Linked DNA regions of Homo sapiens: region 2 is linked to region 1. The links come from fine-mapping of genetic effects on gene expression. Tissue or cell type: blood mononuclear cells. Region 1 holds a variant in brackets; the other region holds the start of a gene. All regions are shown on one strand. Distances are from middle to middle.

What was found. PIP is the estimated chance that this variant, and not a neighbour inherited with it, causes the effect.
Region 2: EPB41L4A starts here. The variant in region 1 is fine-mapped to the expression of EPB41L4A in blood mononuclear cells (TOPMed, PIP 0.93).

Annotation. Positions count from the first base shown.
Region 1 is chr5:112,588,071-112,590,835 of GRCh38, reverse strand. No RefSeq gene overlaps it. Among named protein-coding and RNA genes, the nearest start is that of LINC02200, 39 kb to the left of the region's middle. The variant T/C (reference allele first, on the strand shown) is at 1,474.
Region 2 is chr5:112,418,040-112,420,649 of GRCh38, reverse strand. EPB41L4A (erythrocyte membrane protein band 4.1 like 4A) reads left to right here and starts at 1,373. Exons shown (of 23, transcript NM_022140.5): 1 at 1,373-1,709. The coding sequence starts at 1,611. EPB41L4A-DT (EPB41L4A divergent transcript) reads right to left here and starts at 1,067. Exons shown (of 1, transcript NR_027706.1): 1 at 1-1,067. RefSeq lists a silencer at 619-708.

The DNA.
Region 1 (2,765 bases):
GGTCAAATGGTATTTCTGGTTCTAGATCCTTGAGGAATCACCACACTGTCTTCCACAATGGTTGAACTAATTTACACTCCACTGACAATGTAAAAGCATTCCTATTTCTCCACATCCTTTCCAGCATTTGTTGTTTCCTGACTTTTTAATGATCACCATTCTAACTGGTGTGAGATGGTATCTCATTGTGGTTTTGATTTGCATTTCTCTGATGACCAGTGATGATGAGCTTTTTTTCATATGTTTTTTGGCCACATAAATGTCTTCTTTTGAGAAGTGTCTGTTCATATCCTTTTCTAAATATACAATCATGTCATCTGCAACAGAGACAATTTGACTTCCTCTTTTCCTAATTGAATACCCTTTATTTCTTTCTCTTGCCTGATTGCCCTGGCCAGAACTTCCAATACTGTGTTGAATAGGAGTGGTGAGAGAGGGCATCCTTGTCTTGTGCCGGTTTTCAAAGGGAAAACCTTTGAAAGCTTCCAGCTTTTGCCCATTCAGTATGATATTGGCTGTGGGTTTGTCATAAATAGCTCTTATTATTTTGAGATATGTTCCATCAATACCTAGTTTATTGAGAGTTTTTAGCATGAAGCGCTGTTGAATTTTGTCAAAGGCCTTTTGGCATCTATTAAGATATTCATGTGGTTTTTGTCATTGGTTCTGTTTATGTGATAGATTGCGTTTATTGATTTGCGTATGTTGTACCAGCCTTGCATCCCAGGGATGAAGCCGACTTGAGTGTGGTGGATAAGCTTTTAGATGTGCTGCTGCATTTGGTTTGCCAGTATTTTACTGAGGATATTGGCCTGAAATTTTCTTTTTTTGTTGTGTCTCTGCTAGGTTTTGGTATCAGGGTGATGCTGGCCTCATAAAATCAGTTAGGGAAGATTCTCTCTTTTTGTATTGTTTGGAATAGTTTTAGAAGGAATGGTACCAGCTCCTTTTATACCTCTGGTAGAATTCGGCTGTGAATCCATCTGGTCCTGGACTTTTTTGGATGGTAGGCTATTAATAGTTGCCTCAATTTCAGAACTTGTTATTGGTCTATTCAGGGATTCAACTTATTCCTGATTTAGTCTTGGGAGGGTATATGTGTCCAGGAACTTATCCATTTCTTCTAGATTTTTTATTTTATTTGCATAGAGGTGTTTATAGTATTCTCTGATGGTAGTTTGCATTTCTGTGGGATCGGTGGTGACATCCCCTTTATCATTTCTTATTGCATCTATTTGATTCTTCTCTCTGTTCTTCTTTGTTAGTCTTACTAGTGGTCTATCAATTTTGTTGATCTTTTCAAAAAAACAGGTCCTGGATTCATTGATTTTTTGAAGGATTTTTTGTGTCTCGTCCTCCTTCAGTTCTGCTCTGATCTTAGTTATTTCTTGACTTCTGCTAGCTTTTGAATGTGTTTGCTCTTGCTTCTCTAGTTCTTTTAATTGTGGTATTAGGGTGTCAACTTTAGATCTT[T/C]CCTGTTTTCTCTTGTGGGCATTTAGTGCTATAAATTTCCCCATACACACTGCTTTAAATGTGTCCCAGAGATTCTGGTACATTCTGTCTTTGTTCTCATTGGTTTCAAAGAATTTAATTATTTCTGCCTTCATTTCGTTATGTACCCAGTAGTCATTCAGGAGCAGGTTGTTCAGTTTCCATGTAGTTGTGTGGTTTTGAGTGAGTTTCTCAATCCTGGGTTCTAATTTGATTGCACTGTGGTCTGAGAGATTGTTATGATTTCCGTTCTTTTGCATTTGGTGAGGAGTGTTTTACTTTCAATTATGTGGTCCATTTCAGAATAAGCACAATGTAGTGCTGAGAAGAATGTATATTCTGTTGATTCGGGGTGGAGAGTTCTGTAGATGTCTATTAGGTCCACTTGGTCCAGAGCTGAGTTCAATTCCTGGATATCCTTGTTAATTTTCTGTCTCGTTGATCTAATATTGACAGTGGGGTGTTAACTCCCCACTACTAACACTATTATTGTGTTGGAATCTAAGTCTCTTTGTAGGTCTCTAAGAACTTGCTTTATGAATCAGGGTGCTCCTGCTTTGGGTGCATATATATTTAGGATAGTTAGCTCTTCTTGTTGCGTTGATCCCTTTACCATTATGTGATGGCCTTCTTTGTTTCTTTTGATCTTTGTTGGTTTAAAGTCTTTTTTGTCAGAGACTAGGATTGAAACCCTTGCTTTTTTTTTGCTGTCCATTTTCTTGGTAAATATTTTTTCATCCCTTTATTTTGAGCCTATGTGTGTCTTTGCACATGAGATGGGTCTCCTGAATACAGCACACCAATGGGTCTTGACTCTTTATCTAATTTGCCAGTCTGTGTCTTTTAATTGGGACATTTAGCCCGTTTACATTTAAGATTAATATTATTATGTGTGAATTTGATCTTGCCATTATGATGCTAGCTGGTTATGTTGCCCATTAGTTGATGCAGTTTCTTCATAGTGTCGATGGTCTTTACAATTTGGTATGTTTTTGCAGTAGCTGGTACCAGTTGTTCCTTTCCGTGTTTAGTGCTTCTTTCAGGAGGTCTTGTAAGGCAGGCCTGGTGGTGACAAAATCTATCAGCATTTGCTTGTCTGTAAAGGATTTTATTTCTCTTTCACTTATGAAGCTTAGTTTGGCTGGATATTAAATTCTGGGTTGAAAATTCTTTTCTTTAAGAATGTTGAATATTGGCCCCCACTCTCTTCTGTCTTGTAGGGTTTCTGCAGAGAGATCTGCTGTTAGTTTGATGGGCTTCTCTTTGTGGGTAAC
Region 2 (2,610 bases), 170 kb after region 1:
CTCTAACTCTAAAACTCAATATAGAGTTTTTTTTCTGTGACACCTCCCCTCGTGTCTCCCCTAACTGCGACTCGCATTAACTCGCTGCTGGTTCCCAGCTGGAGAGCACAGATTGCACCTGCTCCGAAGCCCAGCGGGGCTCAGTGTCGTCCGCAGCTCAACCTCGGCTGCCTGTGCACGGACATCGGGACCCACCAGGGGTCACTGCAGCTTCAGAGCTATTGTGCCCCTCAGTCCTGGACGCGGCCGACCGCGCGGAGGGCGTGGGATTGGGACCGCCGAACCGTGGGGTCCGAGCAGCACCGCGTCCTCTTCTCCCCACCCAGCCTCCAGGTCTCTCGGGGGAAGGACGCAGCGAGCGCTGGACTGCCCCGCGGCTTGGGCGCAGTGTGCGGCTTGGCAGCGTGGACTCGCCGGCACCTCGCCGCTGGGACCACGGTCTCTGCCCCGCCCTCCGCCCCCAGCTGATACCCCGCCCAGAAGGGGCTCCCCTGCCGCGGCCAGCGCTGGACTGGGGGGTCCGCTTCGTTCCAGGGCTTTTTGCAGACGCCTGGACCGGGCCCACATGCACCTGGGCTGCTCCCGCCCGGGGCGCCACCACTCGCGCGGCCAAGAGAACTTTCCCCGGAGCCTCTGCGGCCTGGCGCGCCCAGGGCGCACCCCCCGCTCGCCCGTCCGCCGCGTTCCCAGCTGGGGCGTCGCTCCTCCGCCCGCAGGTCCCCGCCTCCCCGCTTTGCTGAATGTCCTGAAGAAGCCGTATTCCGCCGCCGCGGCAGGCATTCCCGGAGGGAGAGCTTGAACTTGGCTACACACGGCCACCCGTAATGAGCTCGGGAGTCCCCGGACGGGAGCCACACCCCGCGACGAGCTGACCTCCCCTCGCTGGTCTGGGTAAGGAGCCTGCTGCCCTTTCCGCCTCTCTTCCGGCTCCTCGGCGCTTGCGGCTGGGGGACGGGGTAGCGGACGGAGCGACGACCTTCGCCTCTGCCCCTGCGCCCATGGTCGGGGCGTCGTGGGTGCTCCTCACACAAAAGAAAAGCCGAGCGCTTCATACTCGGCGGATCTGACCCGGGGCTGCGGGGCGGGGTCGCGGCTGGAAGTGCGCGCCCGCGGGGGACTCCGCAGGCCGATCGGACGCCAGGACGTCGGGGCCGCGCTCAAATCCGTGCGGCAGGAGGGAGGTGCAGCGCTTCCAGGGTTTTCCAAGGCCGGGGAGAGCCTCGAATTCCCATCACTCCTTTTTCTGGTCTCTTGCCCCCAGTGCCAGGAGACTTTTGTCGTCCCCAGGACTGCGGGAGGGGCCCCGCGCCCCCGCCTTCGGAGGAGCTCGAGCCGCAGGATGCGCGGGGACGCGCCACCGCCCTCCGCGCCCAGTTCCGCCGGCGCTTCCCCGGCGGCTCCCGGGCGCTGACTCTCCCGGGCTTTTCCGCCTTTCTCGCTCCCGCCCCGCCGGGCGGTTCGGCGGCCGGTCCCCGGACCCCGCCGGGAGCTGCTCGTCTCACCCTCGCCACGGCGCGGACAATAAATTAATGCATCGCGCTTGAGTGGAGGGGGCGGCTGGGCGCCTCGGTGGTAGCTTTCTCTCCTGGCTGGAGACGACCACAACCGACATGGGCTGTTTCTGCGCTGTTCCGGAAGAATTTTACTGCGAAGTTTTGCTCCTGGATGAATCCAAGTTAACCCTTACCACCCAGCAGCAGGGCATCAAGGTGGGTGCGGCCCGGAGCGCGTTCCGGGGGTTGGCGGCAGGGCGGGTGCGGGGGTCCATCGCTTTGAGGGCTGTCACCGGTGGGTCGAGGGCGGCGGCCGCGACTCTGCGCGGTGGGGAGGAGAGGCCGCTGTCCCCTGCGCGCAGGGAGAGGGTGGACGTACCAGGGTGAGTTAACTTTGAGTTCCTTCATAAAGCAAAGTTGAGTTTGACGTTTCTAAGTTTACTCAGCACACCGGCTCCCAGCAGCACCCCAAAACTCTTCCCCAAACCGGTTTTCTCCAAAAGCCTCTGGGTGCCCCGCAGCTCTCAAAGAGGGGCAGAATGGGTTATACCAGCTGCGTCCCACCAGTGTGGAAGGCATGGTTTCCCTCGACTTTGTTGAAGGCGTTTTCCTTGACAGTGTTATTAGGGAAGTGAACTAGTTCACTCGTTGAAACGCATTAATGGGTCATTGTGATTGTTTTGCGTGGGTTCGTAGTTGGGTAATGCTACGTTTGGACGGAAAATATTTTCCCTTTCTACAGCGACCTGGGTTTATCCTCACATTTAAGTAAACATCTCTCAAAGCGACCCAGTAATAACTTTGCTCCTGTTTGTGGGTCATTAAAATGCAATCACTACATTAACCTAGAGAGCCCAAACAAAAAGGCAGCAGAGCTCGCAGAGATCCTCTTCCTTACATTGGATGAGAAGGTACGTATGTTTGTAGTGACAACCTGACCGACGCGCCTGCGTGCTTGTTTTGCTTTTGCAACAGTGTTAACTACCTAAAGGAGATCTAAATCCGGAGCGTTTTGTTGTTTTGTTTATCTTTCTCTTTCAGTTTTAGATCGCTAAGGCATTTTAGATAAGGCAACAGCTGAGTCTGGTGAAGGGAAACCGCCCCCCCGCCCCCGCTC